7 linked regions of the Homo sapiens genome follow. The protein of the gene in region 6 purifies or fractionates together with the protein of the main gene of each other region. This does not show direct contact. Each region holds a gene or a part of one and is shown on either strand. Other genes may lie near its edges. The genes, in order: PNKD, MYO1D, ATP13A2, LEMD2, EXOG, PBXIP1 and PACC1.

Evidence for each region.
Region 1: the proteins of PBXIP1 (region 6) and PNKD purify together in Homo sapiens (affinity purification with mass spectrometry; 3 studies listed by BioGRID and IntAct, with this or other methods). This does not show direct contact.
Region 2: the proteins of PBXIP1 (region 6) and MYO1D purify together in Homo sapiens (co-immunoprecipitation; 2 studies listed by BioGRID and IntAct, with this or other methods). This does not show direct contact.
Region 3: the proteins of PBXIP1 (region 6) and ATP13A2 purify together in Homo sapiens (co-immunoprecipitation; 2 studies listed by BioGRID and IntAct, with this or other methods). This does not show direct contact.
Region 4: the proteins of PBXIP1 (region 6) and LEMD2 purify together in Homo sapiens (co-immunoprecipitation; 2 studies listed by BioGRID and IntAct, with this or other methods). This does not show direct contact.
Region 5: the proteins of PBXIP1 (region 6) and EXOG purify together in Homo sapiens (co-immunoprecipitation; 2 studies listed by BioGRID and IntAct, with this or other methods). This does not show direct contact.
Region 7: the proteins of PBXIP1 (region 6) and PACC1 purify together in Homo sapiens (co-immunoprecipitation; 3 studies listed by BioGRID and IntAct, with this or other methods). This does not show direct contact.

What each region holds. Positions count from the first base shown.
Region 1 is NC_000002.12:218,273,519-218,277,018, reverse strand, and holds part of PNKD (probable thioesterase PNKD isoform 1 precursor), read right to left. Parts: intron 2,823-3,500; exon of another isoform or gene 1,545-2,822; coding exon of another isoform or gene 1,398-1,544; intron 994-1,397; coding exon of another isoform or gene 940-993; intron 16-939; coding exon of another isoform or gene 1-15. Other genes in the region: TMBIM1 (protein lifeguard 3), read left to right, coding at 1-15, 940-993, 1,398-1,544. UniProt on the Homo sapiens protein: Probable thioesterase that may play a role in cellular detoxification processes; it likely acts on a yet-unknown alpha-hydroxythioester substrate.
Region 2 is NC_000017.11:32,765,625-32,769,124, forward strand, and holds part of MYO1D (unconventional myosin-Id), read right to left. Parts: intron 2,129-3,500; coding exon 2,012-2,128; intron 1-2,011. UniProt on the Homo sapiens protein: Unconventional myosin that functions as actin-based motor protein with ATPase activity. Plays a role in endosomal protein trafficking, and especially in the transfer of cargo proteins from early to recycling endosomes.
Region 3 is NC_000001.11:16,998,429-17,001,928, forward strand, and holds part of ATP13A2 (polyamine-transporting ATPase 13A2), read right to left. Parts: intron 2,107-3,500; coding exon 1,972-2,106; intron 1,885-1,971; coding exon 1,818-1,884; intron 1,715-1,817; coding exon 1,583-1,714; intron 1-1,582. UniProt on the Homo sapiens protein: ATPase which acts as a lysosomal polyamine exporter with high affinity for spermine. Also stimulates cellular uptake of polyamines and protects against polyamine toxicity.
Region 4 is NC_000006.12:33,775,631-33,779,130, forward strand, and holds part of LEMD2 (LEM domain-containing protein 2), read right to left. Parts: intron 2,758-3,500; coding exon 2,612-2,757; intron 1,610-2,611; coding exon 1,508-1,609; intron 1,427-1,507; coding exon 1,324-1,426; intron 1-1,323. UniProt on the Homo sapiens protein: Nuclear lamina-associated inner nuclear membrane protein that is involved in nuclear structure organization, maintenance of nuclear envelope (NE) integrity and NE reformation after mitosis.
Region 5 is NC_000003.12:38,506,340-38,509,839, reverse strand, and holds part of EXOG (nuclease EXOG, mitochondrial isoform 1 precursor), read right to left. Parts: intron 2,987-3,500; coding exon 2,872-2,986; intron 1-2,871. UniProt on the Homo sapiens protein: Endo/exonuclease with nicking activity towards supercoiled DNA, a preference for single-stranded DNA and 5'-3' exonuclease activity.
Region 6 is NC_000001.11:154,943,580-154,946,099, forward strand, and holds the end of PBXIP1 (pre-B-cell leukemia transcription factor-interacting protein 1), read right to left. Parts: coding exon 1,993-2,520; intron 1,539-1,992; coding exon 1,445-1,538; 3' UTR 501-1,444; downstream 1-500. UniProt on the Homo sapiens protein: Regulator of pre-B-cell leukemia transcription factors (BPXs) function. Inhibits the binding of PBX1-HOX complex to DNA and blocks the transcriptional activity of E2A-PBX1.
Region 7 is NC_000001.11:212,387,387-212,390,886, forward strand, and holds part of PACC1 (proton-activated chloride channel), read right to left. Parts: intron 1-3,500. UniProt on the Homo sapiens protein: Chloride channel gated by pH that facilitates the entry of chloride ions into cells upon exposure to extracellular acidic pH. Involved in acidosis-induced cell death by mediating chloride influx and subsequent cell swelling.

The sequences.
Region 1 (3,500 bases), on a different chromosome or scaffold from region 6:
CTCTACTTCCAATACGTGAGTGTCCCAGGAGAGCTGGGGTCAGGGAACCCAGTGCTCAGGGCAGACTTCCTATATAGCATGGTCTCGCAGGCCCCAAAGGTCCCCGGGGCAGGCTCTGACCTCCAGAACCTCTCGACTGGCTAGCAAAGGCACCAACGTGGAGGCAGCATCCTTCTGGGTGAGGGTAGACTCTCTGTGTGGAGATGGGCGGCCTTGGAGCCAGAGCACCTGAAGCCCTGGACTGCATCACTGCACTCCTAGGGGAAGGGGTGGGTTCAATCTGGCTGGCAGCTGAGAATCAGGTTCTCGGAGGCAGACTGGGAGAGGAACCCAGAGGACTGAGATGATGGGCCTAGGTGGAAGGGACCTTGCGGGGGTCTCTGGATCCAATTATTTCCTTTATTCTGTTCAGCTGGGGGAGAACAGTGCCGAAGGGGAAGGATGGGGACACGAGGGCTGCCTGCCCATGGGCCAGCTCTGTCCTTCTGTGGACGGCCACCTGTGGGCATGTCATGTGGGCTGTCCTGTGGGTGCTCCCGGATTTTGATACTCACCAGAGGGGTTGGGGGGCCTCCCTTCTTCCTTAGTCTACCCCTCCCAGGCTGGGCTGTAGGAACTGGTCTATTGAATGCTGGGTCTGCCCCTTTCAGAGCTGTAACTCAACTGCTTTTTTTCTAGAAGTATAGTAGACACTTGTGTACCTTGACTGGCTTTGGAGATTGGTTTTATACAGCCATTGCAGGATGGCCTCTGCTTTCTCTGCTGGATATATCACCAGTCTTAATTTCCTCCAAGATCTGGAAAGGCAGTAGCCTTTCATGGAGAGCTAGCTTCCCAGCTCTACCCACTCTCATGCCACTATCCCGGGGGAAGCTGGGGCCTGTGGGCCTGTGGTTTGCTGAGGTTTCTAATGCCATTCTCTGTCCCCTTCTTCTCCAGGTTTACTGGCTCCACATGCTCTATGCTGCTCTGGGGGCCATTTGTTTCACCCTGGTAAGTCCCAGCCCCACTCTAGGAAGGGGAGCTGAGGGGATGAGGGGAGGAATCTAGGGAAGGGGGCATGAATTTAGACTGCCTGGGAGGCAGGGAATGGGGCCATAGCAGGCCATTCCTCTCACTACTGTCCAGAGATTCCATTGATTTTTGTGGGCACTCTTGCCATCTCTTGTTCAAGCTGCCTGCTATTAGAACACTAGTCAGCCATATTGAGAACGGTGTGTCTGCCTCCTTTCCTAGACTGTGAGCAGCTACAGTATAGAGCCCATATGTTATGCTGTGCGTTAATGTGGCCCTAAGCACTGTGTGGCGCATAGGCCCCCAAGACAAATCTGCTGACCAAAAATGAGCTCTGGACACTGATGCCTGAGTTCTCACTTCTGGCTTCCCTATCCTTGCAGTTCCTGGCTTACGACACACAGCTGGTCCTGGGGAACCGGAAGCACACCATCAGCCCCGAGGACTACATCACTGGCGCCCTGCAGATTTACACAGACATCATCTACATCTTCACCTTTGTGCTGCAGCTGATGGGGGATCGCAATTAAGGAGCAAGCCCCCATTTTCACCCGATCCTGGGCTCTCCCTTCCAAGCTAGAGGGCTGGGCCCTATGACTGTGGTCTGGGCTTTAGGCCCCTTTCCTTCCCCTTGAGTAACATGCCCAGTTTCCTTTCTGTCCTGGAGACAGGTGGCCTCTCTGGCTATGGATGTGTGGGTACTTGGTGGGGACGGAGGAGCTAGGGACTAACTGTTGCTCTTGGTGGGCTTGGCAGGGACTAGGCTGAAGATGTGTCTTCTCCCCGCCACCTACTGTATGACACCACATTCTTCCTAACAGCTGGGGTTGTGAGGAATATGAAAAGAGCCTATTCGATAGCTAGAAGGGAATATGAAAGGTAGAAGTGACTTCAAGGTCACGAGGTTCCCCTCCCACCTCTGTCACAGGCTTCTTGACTACGTAGTTGGAGCTATTTCTTCCCCCAGCAAAGCCAGAGAGCTTTGTCCCCGGCCTCCTGGACACATAGGCCATTATCCTGTATTCCTTTGGCTTGGCATCTTTTAGCTCAGGAAGGTAGAAGAGATCTGTGCCCATGGGTCTCCTTGCTTCAATCCCTTCTTGTTTCAGTGACATATGTATTGTTTATCTGGGTTAGGGATGGGGGACAGATAACAGAACGAGCAAAGTAACCTATACAGGCCAGCATGGAACAGCATCTCCCCTGGGCTTGCTCCTGGCTTGTGACGCTATAAGACAGAGCAGGCCACATGTGGCCATCTGCTCCCCATTCTTGAAAGCTGCTGGGGCCTCCTTGCAGGCTTCTGGATCTCTGGTCAGAGTGAACTCTTGCTTCCTGTATTCAGGCAGCTCAGAGCAGAAAGTAAGGGGCAGAGTCATACGTGTGGCCAGGAAGTAGCCAGGGTGAAGAGAGACTCGGTGCGGGCAGGGAGAATGCCTGGGGGTCCCTCACCTGGCTAGGGAGATACCGAAGCCTACTGTGGTACTGAAGACTTCTGGGTTCTTTCCTTCTGCTAACCCAGGGAGGGTCCTAAGAGGAAGGTGACTTCTCTCTGTTTGTCTTAAGTTGCACTGGGGGATTTCTGACTTGAGGCCCATCTCTCCAGCCAGCCACTGCCTTCTTTGTAATATTAAGTGCCTTGAGCTGGAATGGGGAAGGGGGACAAGGGTCAGTCTGTCGGGTGGGGGCAGAAATCAAATCAGCCCAAGGATATAGTTAGGATTAATTACTTAATAGAGAAATCCTAACTATATCACACAAAGGGATACAACTATAAATGTAATAAAGTTTATGTCTAGAAGTTAAAACCCTGTATGGCTCCAGGAGTATGTGTGGCTCTGCCCAAAGTATCCACTTCTTCCTTCTGCATTCTGGCTTGGGCTGTCCCACCTTTTCCAAGGTAATCAAATACACTTTACTGCAGCAGTTTCCGGGGACGGATGCAATAGACTAGTGAAGGCTCAGGAGTTGGGTGGGGAAAGGGAGAGCTCAACCCTATCACACTGGATCACTGGATATGGAAGAGACCTCTTGGCTGTAGTGCTTGACCTTTTCTGCACCATGGACCCTTTCCAAAAGCTCATGAGAGCTAACTCTCTTCCTCAAAGAGCTGTATGTATACCTACAGTTTTGCAGATGGAGGAGGGGATGGACTGCAGGTTCAGTCCATGTCAACTCCAGTCCCATCTTACAAAATGAGGAAACTGGGCCTGGTGCGGTGGCTCACACCTGTAACTCCAGCACTTTGGGAGGCCGAGGGCGGTGGGGGGGAATCACCTGAGGTCAGGAGTTTGAGACCAGCCAGACCAAACATGGTGAAACCCCATCTCTACTAAAAGTACAAAAAAAAAAAAAAATTAACTGGGAGTGGCGGTGAGTGCCTGTAATCCCAGCTACTCTGGAGGCTGAAGCAGGAGAATCACTTGAACCCAGAAGGTGGAGGTTGCAGTGAGCTGAGATCATGCCATTGTACTCCAGCCTGGGCA
Region 2 (3,500 bases), on a different chromosome or scaffold from region 6:
ATTTTTTGTATTTTTAGTAGAGACAGGGTTTCACCATGTTAGCTAGGATGGTCTCGACCTCCTGACCTCATGATCCACCCACCTCGGCCTCCCAAAGTGCTGGGATTACAGGCGTGAGCCACCGCGCCTGGCCTTTTTCCTTAAACTTTTTAATCCATCCACAATTGATTTTGGTACATGGTATCAAGTAAGAATCTAACTTTATTTTTCACATGATTAGTTGCTCTAACGGGACTTATTGAACAGTCTAGCTTTTTCTGATTTGAAATGTCACCTTTTTTTTGAGACAGGGTCTGTCACCCAGGCTGGAATGCAGTGGTGCACCATGGCTCACTGCAGCCTCAACGTCCCAGGCTTAAGCGATCCTTCCACCCCCAGCCCCTCTAAATAGCTGGGACTACAGATGCGTGCCACCATGCCTGGCTAATTTTTGTATTTTTTGTATAGATGGGGTTTTGCCATGTTGCCCAGGCTGGTCTTGGAACTCCTGGGTTCAAGCAATCTGTCCACCTCAAACTTTCCAAAGTGCTGGGATTACAGGTGTGAGCAACCCCGCCCAGCTGAAATGTCACCTTTTTAATATGTTAAATCTCCTCAAGTGTTTGAGTCTATTTATATTCCACTCATTCAATAAGCAATACATACTTATAACCATCTACCAAATGTCCAGCACATTAACCAATCAGTTGATTAATCTGTTGATCTGGTGCTGAACTTGTGCAAAGTTATAAAGTACTCTAGCTTTTACTATCATTTTAAGTTTGGTAGAACTAGTCATGTTCCCTCTCCTCCCTTACCCTACCCTATACGACACTTCTTTAATATACTTTATTTGATCTTTTTCCAGGTAAATTCTAGAATCAACAGGTCAAGTTAAAAACAAAATAAAGGCCAGGCACAGTGGCTCACGCCTGTAATCCCAGAACTTTGGGAGGCTGAGATGGGCAGATCACGAGGTCAGGAGATCGAGACTGTCCTGGCTATGGTGAAACCCCGTCTCTACTAAAAATAAAAAAAATTAGCCAGGCGTGGTGGCAGGCGCCTGTAGTCCCAGCTACTCAGGAGGCTGAGGCAGGAGAATGGTATGAACTCGGGAGGTGGAGCTTGCAGTGAGCCTAGATTGCACCACTGCACTCCAGCCTGGGTGACAGAGCGAGATTCCATCTCAAAAAGAAAACAAAACAACAAAAAATAAAATTCTTGTTTGGATTCTGAAAAGGACTGCTGCACTGTATTTAAAAACTGATTCAAACAGATGAGACAATTTATAATACTAAAGTCTTCCTAGTCAGGAACATTTATTGTTTATATTGCTATATAATATTTTTCATAAAGATCCTGCACATTTCTGATTCATTTAGAGTTAAATCTTGCTATATTAAGTGAAAAGTAATTTTTATTCCAGATTTGAATCCATGTTGTCATTCTTATTGTAAGATTATATGTTCAGTGTATTTTAAGTATCTCTAATTATATAAATGTTAATGAAAGAAATCTAACACACAGTTCTTCACTTCTAAGTTTGGTGTGGTATAGTGGGAAACAAGTGGCCCAAAAGTGGTCTATGGTGTTGGCTCTGGGATGAGCTGGCTGTGCCTTTGAGGTAGTCATGCCACCCATCAGGGCTATTTCCCAATCTGTAAAATGAGATGATTAAAAATCCAGTTCCGATAACCTATGATTCTATGTTTCAAATGCCACTAGAAATTTATACCACTAGTAGTCACATCACTGCTGAATTCCTTTATCCTTAAAATTAACCAGTTCAAAGTTTGACAATACCAGTAAGACAATCAACTGAAGTAGTAGTCTCCAACCCTATAGTAGCTTGGAAAATCCCTCATAATATTATAAAATGATGGCAAGAACCACAGACATAGTAATTTCTTCAAAATACGTACAAAATTTTCTCTGAATACTTTTTAAATCTACAGGGAAAAAACAAAATCTTCTGAGAAAGCATCCTGTTCTCAGCAGAAGACAATACATTCTGAGAGGTGTCCCTACTCACCAAGTGCAGAATAGCAGCCAAAATCTTATACACTGTTTGGATCTCCTCAGGTTTGAAGCCAATGACTTTCATGGCATCAGCAACAACTCTGAATTCGGCAGCATCATTGATAGAAGACTGGGGATGAAAATGAAAAACTGAAGTTACAGATATTTCCTATGAGCATTAAAATTCAACAATTATAAAACTAAGTTATACCAAGGTTTTGCCTTCATAGTAAATCACTTGAGGGGATGGTGAGTCTCCAGAGAAAATAAAAATGATTTCACGAGTTGCAACATTATTCAGCACGTACAAAGCCCACTTGTGCGTGAAAGCCATCACCTAAAATAAGCACTGTGCCGTTTTCTGGAACCTTCAGTGAGGGAGCAAGTCCTGAGCTGGCTCAGACAAGCTGATCCCCCACTCCATGATCAGTGAAGGCAACAGCATGGATGTGAGATCACAAATGCAAGTGCTGAATGTGGGAGCCTCCAAGATACATGCTTGGCTACTGTTGTTTGTGGCTCTTTGTTCCACAATTGTCTTATTTAGGCTGGCAACAACACTTCACTCTCGTATAATCAGGCGGTTTATTTTCCAGGTGAGGCAAGGCGGGCCCTCAAAAGCAAAACAGCCAGCCTCAGTCATTTAGTAAGCTATTAAATAGTCTGGGACTATAACTTCATTCTTTCACTCACTTGATACGCATTTCACAAGTCAGCTCTACTAACTGGTACAGGCAGCTCAAAGATGAATCGCCTGCCCTTTTAGAGCTGTGGCCATCACATTGGAAATACAAGTGCGTAAACAGAAATTCGCAATAAAGCAATAGTAACTGCTTATATTAGTTTTACCACAGCAGCAGCCGCAGAGGCTTGACCAATTCTTTCCTCAGTAAGTTTCTCCTCTTGTTTGGATACAGAGACCTGGCCTGATGCTCACTTGTTGAGGAAGGGCCCTGGAAGGGGACCTCTCTGCCTGGTGAGTACAAGTTCCTCTAGTGTCCAGGAGACAACCAGGCCAGCCCCTCCTCCTCCTAGGTTTTTGTTTTTACCTTGGACAAGATACTTAACCTCATTGAACCTCAACTTCCTCACAAATAAAATGGGCATAATAACATATATCTTACAGGGTGGTTGTCAGAATTGAATGAAAATTTATATAAAGCACCTCTCTAGCACCAGCATACAAAAAAAAACCACTCAGCAGTATCAGATATTACTATTATTATAAACTGCAACCATGTTGAAGTTGGAAAGTAACTGGATAAAATCTAAATGTCCTACTGTGGGGAACTGTTGGCTGCTTACCTAACAGCCATCCTCTACCCTCATTTCTTTCTTGCCAATCGAACCCTGATTTGTTTACTCCTCTCTAAGTGTGCATGTCCTTTGTGACTGGCATCTACCTAGCCTCAAGAGGTAAATCTTCACTGGTCTAAACTCATCAGAGTGATCTTATTTCCCTTACTAAATGACTGGTTAGCCACAGGCATGGGATGCCATTC
Region 3 (3,500 bases), about 140 Mb from region 6:
CTCCTCACCTCAGGCAATCCACCCACCTCTGCCTGCCAAAGTGTTGGGATTACAGGTGCGAGCCACTGCGCCTGGCCTACGATTTGTGATACAAATACAATGCCAGCCAGAAAACTTCCCTGGAAAAAAACCACTATCCTGTGGTTTTTAGTAAACTCTCTCCAGTATCTACCACCAAAATATAACACATCTCAGAGAAAGAAATACTTGCACACATCAAGAGACACAGGACAAAGCTGCTCCTGTGGCGTCCTTTGCAATGGCTGGAAAATCACATTCTAAATACTCATGGCGAGCGGGCCGGTTGAGTCAGTTACGATACATCCGTATTGTGGACTCTCATGCAGCCATGAGGTGGGGCCATCCGTGCTTGTGGAAGGATGCCAGGAGAAAAAGCAAAGTATGGAACAATACACAGCATACAATCCCACGTTCAGAACAAAAGGAGAGGCAAATCAGCCCATGTGCACACACGTAATGCAGAAAAAGGCGTGGAAGACACCTCACACCCTTCACAGTGGCTGCCCTGGGGAGGGGAAGGGAAGGGGACTGTGGGGTAGTGAATGGGGACCGCAGTCTCTCACTCTGGGAGAGGGCTTCCCACTCTCCTGTGCCATCTGGAATCTTTATGACCTGAAGGTGGGCACTGGTATAGAAACAGCTCAGATGCAGCCAGGTGCTATGGTTCATGCTTGTAATCCCAGCACTTTGGGAGGCTGGGGCGGGCAGATCACTTGAGGTCAGGAGTTCAAGACCAGTCTGACCAACGTGGTGAAACCCCATCTCAACTAAAAATACAAAATTAGCCGGGTATGGTGGCGCACACCTGTAATCCCAGGTACTTGGGTGGCTAAGGCAGGAGAATCGCTTGAACCCAGGAGGTGGAGGTTGCAGTGAGCTGAGATCGCACCATGGTACTCCAGCCGGGGCAACAAGAGTGAAACTCCATCTCAAAAAAAAAAAAAAAAAAAAAAAAAGGAGAAATAGCCCAGATGCACTGGGTGGCTGGCCATTTATGCTGCACCTCTCACGCTCCTAAGCACTTTGCACAACTCTGTCCAGGAGGAGTGACTGACAGCCATCTTACAGAAGAAGGAACTGAGGCACGGAGATGATACGTGGTAACGGCCCAGGGGTGTGAGGTTAGCAAGTCCTAAAGCTGGGATTGTTGCTTGAGAGAAAAAGGAAGAGGAGGCGGAGCGCTGGCACACGCCTGAAATCCCAGCACCTTGGGAGGCCGAGGTGGGCAGATAACCTGAGGTCAGGAGTTCAAGACCAGCCTGGGCAACATAGTGAAACTCCATCTCTACTAAAAATAAAAAATTAGCTGGGCGTGATGGTATGCACCTGTGGTCCCAGCTACTCAGGAGGCTGAGGCACAAGAATCACTTGAACCTGGGGGGTGGAGGCTGCAGTGAGCTGAGATCATGTCACTGCACTCCAGCCTGGACAACAGAGTGAAACTCCGTCTCACAAAAAAACAAAAAAGGAAAAGGAAACTCAAATGAAAACTTTTGCCGCAGGGCAAAGGGTTGGATGGCAGGGGAGGAAGGAAGCTGCAGGCCAGGGGCTGGGGGCTCACCTGTCAGAGAGCTCTCATTCACCATGCACTCGCCGGCCACCAGGGCGGCATCACAGGGCATCAGCCCACCCTCCTGGGGCAGCACCAGGCAGTCTCCGGGCACTAGCTCACTGGAGTCCACCCACTCTTCCTCTGCAGGCAGGCAGGAGAGGAGCTCAGCTAGGTGGGGCCAGCCCCAGCCATGCCCCCCCACCCTCCCACTCCTGCCCCCGCCCCCTGGGCCCTAGCTCCTCACCTCCCCCTGGCCGGCACACGCACACCCGCATGGACAACTTGACCATGTCCCTTAGAGTCTGGCTTTGCTGTGGGCAGGGGACAAGAGGGCCGTGAGTGGGTGGGGGCCCCTGGGGACCCACCTGTCCCGTCCCCACCCACCTTATGGCACTCACCTTTCTGGTCTTGTACAGCGACAGGCAGATGGAGATGGAGGAAATGAGGAAGATGCACAGGGCGTACCAGTAGTAGTGGTCAGCCAGCCACAGCGCGATGCTGAAGGCCTGGAACCCATAGTAGGGGTTCAGTGCCTGGGGGAGGGGCGGGAGGCAGCGTCAGGGCCGCGTCCCCCAGGGCAGCCCAGCCACAGGCTGGGTCTCCTGTGCCCATGGGAGCAGAGGGCCCAGTGGCTGCCAAAGGACTGGAGCCAGGCCTTTCTCCTGGTCAATCCCATCCCCACCCAACCAGACATCCCCAGGGCCCTCAGTTTCTCCGCTCTAAAGAGGACAAGGGTTTATGACCAGCCTGGGCAACATGGCGAAACCCCATATCTACAAAAAATACAAAAATTAGCCTGATGGGGTGGCCTGTGCCTACGCTCCCAGCTACTCAGGAGGCTGAGGTGGGAGGATCACTTAAGCTGGGGAGGTGGAGGGTGCAGTGAGCTGAGATCGCGCCACTGCACTCCAGCCTGAGTGACAGAGGGAGACCCTGTCTCAAAAAAAATAAACAAATAAATAAATAGGATAAGGGTATTTACTGAACCCCCACTACACGCCAAGTGCTTTATCTAAGTGTCATACAATGGCAATGACAATTCTACAAGGCCGGTACCACCATTAGCTCCATTCTACAGATGAGGAAACCAAGGCATGGACAGGTGAAGCCACTGGCCTAAAACCACATAGTTCCAGCCAGGTGCGGTGGCTCATGCCTATAATCCCAGCACTTTGCAAGGCCGAGGCAGGTGGGTCATCTGAGGTCAGGAGTTTGAGACCAGCCTAGCCAACATAGTGAATCCCCGTATCTACTAAAAATACAAAAAAAAAAAAAAATTAGCTGGGCGTGGTGGCAGGCGCCTGTAGTCCCAGCTATGTAGGAGGCTCAGGCAGGAGAATCACTTGAACCCAGGAGGTGGACATCGCAGTGAGCCGAGATCACGCCATTGCACTCCAGCCTGGGCAACAAGAGCAAAACTCTGTCTCAAAAAAAAAAACAACAAACAAAAAACAAAAAACCACATAGCTTCTAAGTGACAGACTGATTTCTATGGGGCCAGACTCAAAGATCTCTTTCATGGTGCCTGCCCCCGATCAGAGGGCTGGGATGTTCACACTTTATTCTAGTTGTGTCCAGGTCACTGGCTTCTCTTTGTCCCTGTGTGACCTTGGCCATGTCACAGCCTCCAACTGAAGCTTGGATTTCTCAGGTGTGAACAGTGCAGTCCCAGGCCCAACCCACGGGACTGTTGGGAGCATGAAAGTGGAGGACGCACAGAGAGGACCCAGGCTCTAGGGCGTGTCTCTGGGGACCCCATAGATGCTCAGGCTGCGTGGATTTGCCTCTTGGCCTCCAATCCCTATGAGTGGGGCCCCAATCTGTGACCCAAGCCTTGGGCAGAACCTCCAATTCCTGGACCTGGTCTCTCTGGCTAGGCTGACTGCGGCAGGTTCTGAGATGACGATCCACTATGGAGAAGGGGACA
Region 4 (3,500 bases), on a different chromosome or scaffold from region 6:
CGGCTCTATTTTTCTGATTCCTCTTGGGTTGCAGATAGGGATGATGTTGACAGTAGAGCCTGGTGGCGGGAGCACGGAAATGCCACTAGCCATGGGACTCTTGAGCACATTCCTCTACTTCCCTGTGCCTCAGTTCCCTTATAGGTAAAATGGGGCCACTTCTGTTGTGTGCGTGAACCATGGTGAGGACCAAGTGAGTGAGTTTGCATCTGTGGAGAGCTCCAAGTAGTGCCCGGCTCCCAGGGAGCACTCAGCAAGGGTGAGCTCTCAGCATCACCCAGCAGATGACAGCATCTGGCCAGAAACCACAGCAAGTGTCTGCTAGGGAGGGACCACAACCAGAGCCAACACTGGGGGGGGCCCTGCTGGCTGTCTCCTGGGACTCTGCCCTCCCCCACCCTGGTTCTGTCAGGACCCCAGTGTACAACTCCAGCAGTCACAGCCCATGTGGAAGGTGCCCTGCAGCTGCACATGACAGTGGCCCTGCCACCCCTTCCCATGAAGCTATGTGCCCTGGAAGCTGACCCCATTCATGTTGTGAAACTTTGCTTTCAATTACATGTATATGCATGAGTGTACGCATGCGTGTGTGGGAACTGGACCATGATGTTGCAGGTAACAGGTGTTTTTGACTGCAGGTCATGGTTTAAAAAGTTTGAAAAACAATTTCCTCCTCCTTGCCAGTGACTGATTCATAAACAGACATGTAAGAGATTCTGGTCAATAAAGCCTCAAGGAGTGTGTCACTGGAGGCTACTGGGAACATGTTCTCTTGCTTATAAGACAACAATAGGCCTACTTTTCCCCTGCTGGCTGTGACAAGGCAGACAGTGCCCCAGCTGCTGTTGGCCACCATCTGCAACCATGAGGGACCCCAGTCTGTTGATAACATCCATGGAGGAGTGTGGGACCACGAGAATCACAAGAGCAATGGAACCGGAGACCTGACTGTTCTGTGCCTGGAGCCCATGCAGCTCTGAACTTCCACTTACAGAGACTGAGGAGATCCTTCACTACTTGTGCCCTGGGGGAGGGAGCTGCTATTACTTGGAGCCCAAGGCCTCCTAACTGGTATCACCACTGCCAGTGTTCTCTCTACAGAGGTGTGGGATTGTGCTTTCATATGTCTTTTCTAGCTCATCCTGCCATAAAGAGCCGAGCATGCTGGGGAGCAGCAGGAGTGGGAGCAGAGCCACTCTTGGCCCTGGGGTCTGCACTGCCCTCAGCTGACATCTGATGCAAGGCTCTGGGTTTCCTTCTGGGGAGCTCAGTGGGGTCGGACCCCATCTTACCTCACACCCAGCGCCCCAGCCAGGGACTCACCGGCTCTGTGGAGGGATCAAGCTGTCGCGCACGTGCAGGATGCCTACATATGGATAGCGCTCCATGTCCTGCTCCCAGTCCACGTAATGGTCCTGGACCACGTCTGCAGGAGAGAGCACACCATTTAGGGCAAGGACCCTCTGGCTGGCGTCGGCAACCCTTTATTCACCAGGGGGCCACGCACCTATAATCTTCTTCACCATCTCATACATGGCTTGTTCCTCCTCTTCTAACTTTCGCCACCGATATTTTAGGAGAATTAGGAGCCCCCACAAAAAAGCCAAGCCTGTGAGGGAACAAAACACTGTTAATCCCTCACACTTCATTTGGCAGTGGGTCTCACCATGGACAAGATGCTGTGATGGATGCTGTGGGGGATCCACCACATGGGTTTGGGTACCTACTATGTGTCAGGCTCAGGGCCAGCATGCGAGAAACAAAAGATACAGAAATGCAGAGGGACGACAGATTATTAAGTGATCATCTTCCTCCCACCGGCTGTCACCACAGCGGCATCCCCAGCCGTCCAGATCTCGGCTCCTCCCAACCTCATTCTGGGGCTTTCATCTCCTCCCTTGTGAACCAGAACACAGTGTTTCATACATATATACATGCCGGGGCCCTTTGTATTCCGAGATGCTGCTGCCGATAATGATTTCTGTGCCTGATGGCACAGGGGAGGGAGCTGTGTGCACACTGAGGCGGTCTGTGATTTGTAGCTCCAACTATCTCTGGAAAGCCGTGGTTTCTGTGACTTGGCCTTTCGCCTTCAGAGACGCCCTGAGGTCTCTGCTCAAAGGCGGCCCCCGATGTCAGGGGATAAGACTGGTGCCCTCCTTTCAGTGCAGCACCCTGAGTCCTTCTTGCTTTCATCAGGTATCTGTAGCTCTCCAGGAGATGTTTATATTTTTCAGGGAGTAAAAGTAGGCCAAGCCCCTGCTGTGCCTCCTGCTCGAAGCTGGTCCACACTGGGATCCCTGCAGAGCCCAGAAGGGGTGGGGCCCAGCTCCTGCTCAGGCCAGGCTCCCGCTCAGGAAATCTGACAGTCCCCTGCCCTGAATCAAGGACATTTTCTAGTTATCCTCACGGATTCCTGCCACCAATCTCCAAAGGTAAATACAACCCAGGGCAGAGGCTGACTTGTTCATCTCCTCTGTTTTATGAGACAGACCTCAGGTTCACTAGACAGAAATGAACCCTCCGGGCCTGGAATTTCTATAGCTCATCATTCATGCCTAGGAGTATGCTTGACTGCACAGAAGGGGAGGGAAGGCGGCCGAGGACTTACACCAGAAGAAGATGAGCACGTTGGTGACAGCAGTGAGCAAGGCCCGGCTCAGGCGGCAGCCAACACCCATGCGGGGGTGGGCAGATTCCAGGCAGACCACCTTGTCCACAGTCGTCACCAATTCAGACTGGTCTTCTCCTTTCAACCTGAAACAGGACACAGGGCTCTGAACATGTTGGAAAGCTCCAAGGAGAGGCAGTGCAAGCCCCACTTCAAACAGGAGGAAGCGAAGGAAAGTGGGGACGCAAGGCCTCTACTTGCTTATAGAATAGGCTTGGTATCCTGGCTGCATTCTTTCCAGAAATTTCCCACATTGGCTACTTAGAATGAATAAAGCTTTAAAGACGGCAGCAGGCTTGAACCCCTACCGCTAAAGCAACGTCCCCCTGTCAGGTCTTTGACAGCCTCTCTCAGCATGCAGGAGATTAAACTGTAAATTGGATTCCCACCTCCCAGCATAGAGAAATGGAAATGTTTACTGAATCACTAGCTTTGCAATTGCATGGCAAGAACTGAAAGACAGAATCTGGGAGGTTGCACTTTTCCTCGGTGACAAGGAGGCACATAAGCTGTTTAAGTGTAAAGATCATGGGGCATCCATGAGGCTCATGGGGAATCCGTGAGGCTCATGGGGAATGAAAACCACCAGGCTCTCCGAGGCCAGACCCCAGCCACGGCGCCTCCACCATGGTCTCTGGCCAGGAGGTGTCAGGACCTGCAGAGGTGGGGACACCAGAGCCTTCTTCCAGCTAGGTGACCCAGGGCGAGAATATCATGCTCTTGAGGCTGCATGCTGGAATGGCTGGCATCCCAAGTGTCCTGATTTCTCAGGACCCACTTTCAATATGGTCATCCTGAGCGGCTCTGCCACCCTCCAGGCTGCCTTCCC
Region 5 (3,500 bases), on a different chromosome or scaffold from region 6:
AGAAGCTTTTCTTTACACCCTATGTATTTACATATTTATTGAGTATGTATTCTTATTTAATTCAATAGGTTTATAATCCATTTTATTTTGATATTCAATAGCACCAGATACAGTAAGTGGGAGCTCCTTCAAGCTGATTCACATGTCCTTCTGACATATCCCCACCATTTGTCTGAGCACTTCCTTGGCTTTCTGATATATGATGTTCCATTTTGTACTCTCCCTGTACCACCCCTTAAATCAGTCATTTCTCTAAGCGCTGAGTCTTTTCAGGAGATGCTTTTTAGAAACAAATATCTGGGTCTCAAGATGTGTTCATTGCTAATGACATACCAATTCTTCTGGGCCTTTTCAGCAGAAACAACTAGAAGATATATTTTTATCAGTTCTATTTTTAAAAATTATATCCAACTTAAGAAAAACAATACATTTTCCACTACGGCATTTGGGCAACACATATTTTACAGAAATAGCCACACAAAAATCTATGTAGTGAAATGCTTGTAATTATTGGTTAATTTTTCGTTTTAAACATTGTACAAATTTTTGTTCTACTACACAGTAGGCTAGTGATATAAATTTTTCAATTTTATAAAAACAAAGCACAAATAAAACTGTAATTTAACCATTTAAGATATACAAGTCAAAGCTAGAAGAGCCTCTTTTCTGACATAAAATAAACAGGATTTAACAAAGACCAAGAATAATTAATATTTGAAAAATAATACAGGGGGCTTTAAGCCTTTTTTTCTCCTAAGACTATAAAATATACTAAAATTAAATTAGCAAGTTAATCAGAGGAGAGAAATTAATATGGGAGGAGAGATATTAAATGAATTAATTTTAAAATACTAATTCCTTTGACTTCCTTCACTCCCATATCTACTGGAATTTTCCAAGGATGTACAAATCCTTGAAAACAACTACTCTATCATTTCCACTTAACAAAAAGAAGTAGTTGGGTCATAATTTTGTGTGGAAAAAGAGAAAGTGGGCTATTCATATGGACCTATACAAATCCTTGGATGCTTGGACATTACTGCACATCTGATCTAGACAGGCTGATAATAAGCAAGTCAAATGGACAGAATATACTCTAAAAGTTTTGGTTTTTTTTTGGGGGGGGGGTGGTTCCTCAATCTGTTCCTCAGGTTATTAAATTTTATCACAGACTTAAGTAATCATTTACCTAACCAGCATTTATTAAATATCTACTTTATTTCCAGAGCTGAGCTAGGTGTTCCCTCCCCTCCTCTTTGGCCTTATTAGCAAGTCCTTCAGTGCTTCTTTTTACTCACTCTACCACCTCTTCTGCTTCACTCCACCTGTTCCCTGCCCTCTGTAAGCCTCACAGTATAGTATAACATTTCAGCCACCCTCTTGGAAGAATCCTCAGGATATTTCTGCATGATAAGATTAAATGTTAAACTTTTTCTAAGAACACCTGCTCTTCAGGTATACCACTTTGTAAATTGCCAATATGAAAGGCTAGCTAAGAATTTCCCAGCAACATTAGATGTCTGAAGCTCTCACACCACTAATTACACTCTCCTATCTTTAATCTCTCTTTCAGTCTATAAAAGTGCTCACATATCTTGCATATTAAAAAAAAGAAGCTTCTAGAAGAAAAGCTTTTCTTCCCATTTATTCAACTCACTGTAACACTGTAATCTGGTTGTTTTTATTTTATTTTTATTTTTATTTTTTTCGAGGTGGAGTCTTGCTCTGTCGCCCAGGCTGGAGTGCAGTGGTGCGATCTCGGCTCAGTGCAACCTCCGCCTCCTGGGTTCAAGCGATTCTTCTGCCTCAGACTCCCAAGTAGCTGGGACTACAGGCACACGCCACCACACCCAGATAATTTTTGTATTTTTAGCAGAGACGGGGTTTCACCATATTGGCCAGGCTGGTCTCGAACTCCTGACCTCGTGATCGCCTGCCTCGGCCTCCCAAAGTGCTGGGATTACAGGCATGAGCCACTGAGCCTGGTCTGCAATCTAGTTGTTATCCTGGAACTTCTCCCTCTTCCTCACTCAAACAAGTTATTTATTCATGGTTACTCTTTCCTGTGTTCCTCTATTATTCCTCACTCCAACTGCTTGTATGTCCTAACTCATCTCCTTGCCTCTAATCTCTTCTTCAAATGCTCCCTTTTCCCACCTATCTCTTTACACGCTGCTGCCAAAATACTCTTTATAAAACCCAAATATCATATTTCTCCCACGCTTAAAACAAATCTATGACTTCTTAGTGCCTAAAAATTAAAACCCAAGTCTTCATCATAGAATAGAAAGTCGCATATTATCTCACCCGTCCACCTGTTGTTATGGAACTCTTCATACCCCTTGAGCCACCCACACTGTTTTGTACCATAAGCTCCAATTTTTATGAATGATATATAAATCTCAAAACCCTGATGTTGACCACAAATGTCCTGTGCTCATCCTGCTCCATCCTCTGGAATCCTCAGGGTCCACTCCTGACTCTTATCTGTCAAGGTATAGCTCAATATCACTTCCTCTTTTAAGCGTTCCTGACTCATATGAGTAGAGCCCATCAGTCCTTTCACAAGACCACACTGTGTGTGTTTACCTCTATTACAGCATGTCACACTTTAATGTAATTAATTGTTAACATCTGTTTTCCACTCTAAACCGTGAGTTCCTTGAAGTCAATAGTTGCTTTTATCCATCACTATATTCCCTATGCCTATCATTCCTAATAGGTGTTCAATAAATATTGTTGAATAAGTGAAATTAAAAAGTAGAATGCAAAATTTTTTTTGAATGATAAAAATAAAAATAAAAAGCAGAATGGAAAGTGAGATTATAATCTCATACAGATAACATAAACCTGACTATTAAACATCCTTACCTGGTAACTAACTATTTTCTTTCCATCGCCTCTAGTCTGAGGTAAGGTCAAAGGCCCAGATACCACCCAAACATCTTCAAACCTTTCTGTCAGCTCTCGACAGTACATTTCTATTCTGAAAAACAAATAAAAAAATGTATGATATTCTCACATATATACATGTAAGACAGCAGCAAATCATATCAATTCCTATGAAAGATACCAAGAAAAACTGCATTTGAGAAATTAAACAAGAACATGGCACAAAACATTATAAGCATATAAACAATTATTTTCCCAGTTTGCTTACTGCACAGAAAAAACTTAAAAATCACATACACTAACAAAACTATCTACATTTTTCTTTATGTGCGCTCAGAGTACATTCTGGAATTCAAATTTCATGAACTTAAAACTTTTTTTATGCCATAGTTCCCAACCAGCTTTCAAGAATTATGTATCATTCCAACAAGATGATATACTTTATTTAACCATTCCTCTTGCAGGACAATTGGGCTTATGTTAACATTTCTTATATAATGCAACGTTGTATCAATTCCTTAGGATAAATTTCAAGGACCAGAATTACTGAATGAATTTATTTTAAAGACTCGTCATCATATGTAAAACTAACATTTTTAATAGGGTTA
Region 6 (2,520 bases):
TGAATTCAATGAACTAATACCTTTAAGCCCTTAAACAGAGTTACATATTCGCTTGCTAAATAATACAGAAATCAGTTACAGCCCCTTCTAGAACCTGTAGTCCCCCGCCTCCTGCCTGAGCAGTCACACCACATTATTCTGTCTCCTGTACTTCCTGGGCATTTCCAGGGTCATCAAAAAGCCCAGTGTATTGCCGAAGGGACTAAGGTTAGATCTCAGGAAGGACTTCCTAGAGAATAGCCAAGGGGAGTCTGGTCATCCTGGGAGAGCTGGCCAGTGGAGCAGGCGCTGGGGTCAGTGGGGTAGGGTCTGAGATTTTGGGGACAGTGAGTAGTGGGAGAGGCGAGGTCTGGAGCAAAATGGAGCCAGGGTGCCACCTAGTGGTTCCCTCACCTCCCCAGCCCCAGAAGCTCTTCCTTCTGGGCCTGGGTTCTTTTCCCTCCTCCACACCCTTCCCTAAAGAAGGCAATAACTTTTGAGTGCCCAAAACAGGAGAGGCATTTTTCTTGCGTTGCTTTTATTTAATCACTTCCCCAGCCCTTCCATCGCCTTTTTTGAGGATAAGAAACCCAAAGTTCCCAGAGATTAACTTGCCCAAGATCACTTGGCCTGGATTTGAGCCTGAGGCTCAGACTCCAAAACCCACACTCAATTTGCTACATCTCCCAGGGGTGGGGCCAAGGCAGCTGTGAGCAAAAGGAGAAGTATCAGCTTCTCAAGGGCCTAGGGTTTGTTGGAAGGGCAAGGCAAGGGCAAAGGGGGATACAGAACAAGGGGGCAAGTACCAGTGCCTGGGATGGACCCATCCATTCAGGCAGGGGGTGTGGGGTGTCCCCTGTGCTTAGAAACCACCTAGCATCATAGCTGCAACAGCACTTTATTGGGATCTGAGTCTACAGTTCACATAGGGAGGTGAAGCCGTGGGAGAAGCAGGGGTAAAAAAAAAAAGGGGGGGGACTTCACCCCCTAGGGACAGCTGCTTCCAAACCTAACAAAACCCCAGGGTAAGTCCTCGTGCTGGGCCTCGAGCCAGCAACTCTAGTCAAATCCCAAGGCACCGGTCAGCATGTGGGTCAAGGGGCCCACTATGGGGACATACACTCAAGAGGATGAAAGCTCTTTAGCTTCAGAATCAGATTGCCTTCCCCAGACCCCACCCCAAAACAGGCTCCTCTCCCATCTCCCCCTTCACAGTGACAAAACACAAGCCCACATCCCAGGGCCTGGAGTATTTGCATGCATTTGCATAGACGGCAACGCAGGTCCAGCTAAGGCCTTTTTCTACATAAAGTGACATCAGTGCAGGGCTGGTGATTTTGCTCTACTGTGTGAAAGATATCTGAGGACACCAAACAAGCCAGGACAGAGTCCACCCTCCAGGAGTTAGATAACGCTGGGATCTTGGGCTGGGCCAGGCCAAGGCCATTCCCTGTGGGGCAGGGTGTCAGCCCCGGTGGTGGTGGTGGTGGCTATGGCTGTGCCCCTCCCTGGGCCCCGCAGCTCTTGGGCTCTGTGAGTGCTTGTCCTTCTTCCCTGACCTGTGGGGAGGAAGAGGCCTTTAGGGGACAATACCATGCAATGAAAACGGGTTCCCCAAGGAGAGAGGACCCTGCTCCTCCCAATGAAGCTGACTTGAGCAGGCACCACCAAGCATATGTGGGAAAAACCTGGTCTCCCAGGATAAAGGCTCCAGTCGGGGAGACAGGAAGATGGGGATCTCCCTCGTCCCCTGGGCCATGCAGGTAGAGGTAGGGCAGGGCAACTCAGGAGAAAGAATCCCCCTGCCCAAAAGGGGACTGCTCAGGACCACTCTGGGGTGGGCACAGGCAGCTTCCTACCCTCAAGGGAAGAAAGGAAGCGGACCTGAATGCCTTCTCTAAGGGAAGCCAGCTGGGGACCAAAAGTAAGGATACTCAAACTAATGATCCTTGCTCTTCACATCCTCCCGACTGCCTCTGTCCCACCCGACCCAACTCCCCCACAGCTGCCCACCTCTTCTTCAGTGCTTTGTCTCCAAAGAAGTGGCTGAAGATGAAGTCCTCAAAGTCATCTACTTCATCATCATCACCTGTCTGTTGCACAGCCACCTCCTCCAAGCTGTCCTCCAGGGCATCCACAAAATCCCGGAAGCGGAGGCGGTCATGACGGAAGATGCCATCCTCACCAAAGAAAGCAGGTGAGAGGGGTAGCTCCTTGGTCAGCTGCCCAGCCCAGGGCAGCCGTGCCAAGTATGTTCTTAGCAGAGAGGCCAGCTCCTGTTGCCGCACTGGGGCTAGCTCTGTGCCAAAGAAAGTCAGGCCCTCCTGCCGGGCACACTCGTCCACACCTGAGCAGCCCTGGGGTGCCCGGTACTTGGGCCTCAACAGCTCTGCCCAGGATGGCAGGGGGTCATGGCTGTCCTTAGTCCCTTCCCTCCACCGAGGTTGCTTCTGCTTTTCTCCAGAGGAGTGGAAGCTACCACTTTTCCTTGGGGGTTCCTTCGGGCCCTGTCGCTTGCCCTCCTTCTTGCTCCCCGACTCC
Region 7 (3,500 bases), about 57 Mb from region 6:
TAAAAGAAAAAGCAAAAAACAAACAAAAAGAACAGAAAAAAGGAGTTTACTCTCTAGAGGGATAGGCAGTTACAATCCAACAAGTGAGCTGGCCCCAACCTACCTCTCTGGCCTTATCCCTCACTGCTCCACTTCCCCAGTTCTCCCAGCTCTAGCTCCACCTCTACTCATCGACTTTCTGTTCTTCTGGAGTGCCCTTCTCAACCCGGGATTCCCTCACACTTACCATTCCCTCTGCTTGATTTTCTTTTCTTCCACAGCTGATGCTTCACTCATCCTAAGCCCCGAAAGCTTTTTGCTTGGCATCTGGCTTCCAACAGTGACAGAGTAGCTTGGTCACGCCATCCTTCCATGGAAGCATTTTAATTTAGAAAGACATTTTCTTGGCCAGGCGCAGTGGCTCAAGCCTGTAATCCCAGCACTTTGGGAGGCCGAGGCAGGAGGATCACCTGAGGTCGGGAGTTCGAGACCAGCCTGACCAACATGGTGAAACCCCTGTCTCTACTAAAAATACAAAATTAGCTGGGCGTGGTGGCGCATGCCTGTAATCCCAGCTACTCAAGAGGCTGAGGCAGGAGAATTGCTTGAACCCAGGAGGCGGAGGTTGCAGTGAGCCGAGATTACTCCATTGCACTCCAGCCTGGGCAACAAGAGCGAAACTCCATCTCAAAAAAAAAAAAAAAAGAAAAAAGAAAGAAAGACATTTTCTTGAGGAAGCCTCTCCTGACCCCTAACCTTTATTTGGGCACCTCTTCCTCAGTGTTCCCAGGGAGCCCTGTACGTCCCCTACTTCATCACTCTGCAATGTCATGTCTATACATCTTTTATCCTCCTAGGCTGTGAGTTCCATGAGGGCAGGGATGGGGCCAGTCTTATCCCTAACTGAATCCTTAGCCCTTCATGCTATGCCTGGAACATTCTGCATTTACATGGTGACTGATTGAACACGTCCTGATGCTATTGGTACAACACAACTCTGTCTCCCCTACCTCCCTCACAAAATCCTGAGGCTAGAAGCTAGATTAATCTCTGTTATGGACGAAACTGTATCCCCCACCCTCAAATTCAGGTTGAAGCCCTAACCCTCAATGTGAGTATATTTAGAGACAGGGACTTCAAGGATATAATTAAGGTTAAATGTGGCCATAAGGATGAGGCCTGATCCAATAGGACCAGAATCCTTATAAGAGGAGGAGACACTAGGAGCACATGCACACAGGAAAAAAGGCCATGTGAGGACACAATGAGAAGGCAGCCATCTGCAAGCCAAGGAGAAAGGCCTCACCAGAATTCAATCCTGCTGGCACCTTGATATTGGATTCTCGCTTCCAGAACTGTGAGAAATAAATTTCTGTTGTTTATGCCACTCAACTGTGGCATTTTGTTACAGCAGTCTGAGCTGACTAAGATACTCCCACAGGGCTCCCTGTGCCCTCTCTGCTCCTCAGCTGAAAATGGAGCTCCCTGAGAAGAAGTCCTATTTCCTCCACAGCCCAGCTGAGCACAAGGCTGAGAACAAGGGAAGCATCTGAACGTAAGCCCCAAAAGGTATCTGCTTGGCATCTGGCTTCCAACAGTGACAGAGTAGCAGTGTCACATCACCCTTCCACAGAAAACAATTATAAACTTTGGACAACATATTTTAAATTATTTGAAGGCACTGGGAGAATGATCAAAAGCAGGTAGAAATTGAAAGAGAGGCTACCCTTGAAAGAGAAGAACTGTACTTGGTGAGATTTATACATCTGTAGCTTTTTGCCTAAGAATACATGCCAATCCCTATAAGGCATGGTTCAGAGTGACAGGGACAAAGTTCAGGGCTGGAAGAGCAGCCAGAAAGTTAAGACAAAACCATGAAAGGGAGGGAGCCACACAGGGGGTGAAACTCCCAAATCTGCAACTAAATATATGTTCAGATCCTTGGCTGGAGAACCCAGGGGGGGCCAGCAAAAAGTAACAACTGGAAATTGAAAGAACTGCATGGAGATTTCAACTACGGCTAATGCAGGGGAGATAGGAGTTTAGAGCTTAAATCTTGCCATATTAACAATATGCCAAGAAAAAAAAATACCCTTCTGAAGATCATAACAGAATCCAGAATCTCTATATCATTCATAATGTCCAGTGTTCAATCAAAAATCACTAGACATGCTAAGAAACAAGAAAATGTGACCTGTACTCAAGAAAAAAGCAATCTATAGAAACCAACACCAAGATGACCCAGTGTTGCAATTTAGCAGAGAGAAAATTTACAGCACTTAAAGGAAAATATCTGAATAAGGAATAAAGACAAGATCAATAGAGAAACAGAAACTAATAACAATGGCCAAATATATAGAATTTCAGTTTTGCAGGATGAAAAAGCATTGTGGAGATGGATGGTGGTGATGGTTGCACAGCAATATGAAAGTGCTTAATATCACTGAACTCTACATTTTAATGAGTAAGATGATGAGTTTTACATTACGTGTATCTAACCACTGTAAAAATGTTTCATAAAATTTAAAAAAACAGATGGAAATTCCAGATCTGACAAGAAATAAATGAAATAAAAAGTTCACTGTATAGGCTTAATAGCAAAAGATGGCAGAGAAAGAGTTTGTGAACTCAAAGTTAAATCAACAGAAACTATCCAATTTGAAGAAAATATTGAAGGAAAAAAAAAACCAAATGGAGCCCGGAAAATTGTTACAGTATCTAGCAGTGTAGTGACATGTAACTGGAGACAGAAAATGGGTCACAAAAAATATCTGAGGCCGGGGGTGTGGTGGTTCACCCCTGTAATCCCAGCACTTTGGGAGGCTGAGGCAGGCGGATCACAAGGTCAAGAGATCGAAACCATCCTGGCCAATGTGGTGAAACCCCGTCTCTACTAAAAATACAAAAATGAGCTGGGCGTGGTGGTGCATGCCTATAATCCCAGCTACTCAGGAGGCTGAGGCAGGAGAATCGCTTGAACCCGGGAGGCGGAGGTTGCAGTGAGTTGAGATCACGCCATTGCACTCCAGCCTAGGAAACAAGAGCAAAACTCCATCTCAAAAAGAAAAAAAAAAAAAAAAAAGACTATTGATATTGGGTTCTAAGATGGCTGAATAGGAACAGCTCCAGTCTACAGCTCCCAGCGAGAGAGATGCAGAAGATGGGTGATTTCTGCATTTCCAACTGAGGTACTGGGTTCGTATCACTGGGGCTTGTCATACAGTGGGTGCAGGACAGTGGGTGCAGCGCACCGAGTGTGAGCTGAAGCAGGGTGAGGCATCGCCTCACCCGGGAAGCAGAAAGGGTCAGGGAATTCCCTTTCATAGCCAAGCAAAGCTGTGACAGATGGCACCTGGAAAATCGGGCCACTCCCACCCTAATACCGTGCTTTTCCAATGGTCTTAGCAAATGGCACACCAGGAGATTATATCCCGCGCCTGGCTCAGAGGGTCCCACACCCACGGAGCCTCGCTCATTGCTAGCACAGCAGTCTGAGATCCAACTGCAAGGCGGCAGTGAGG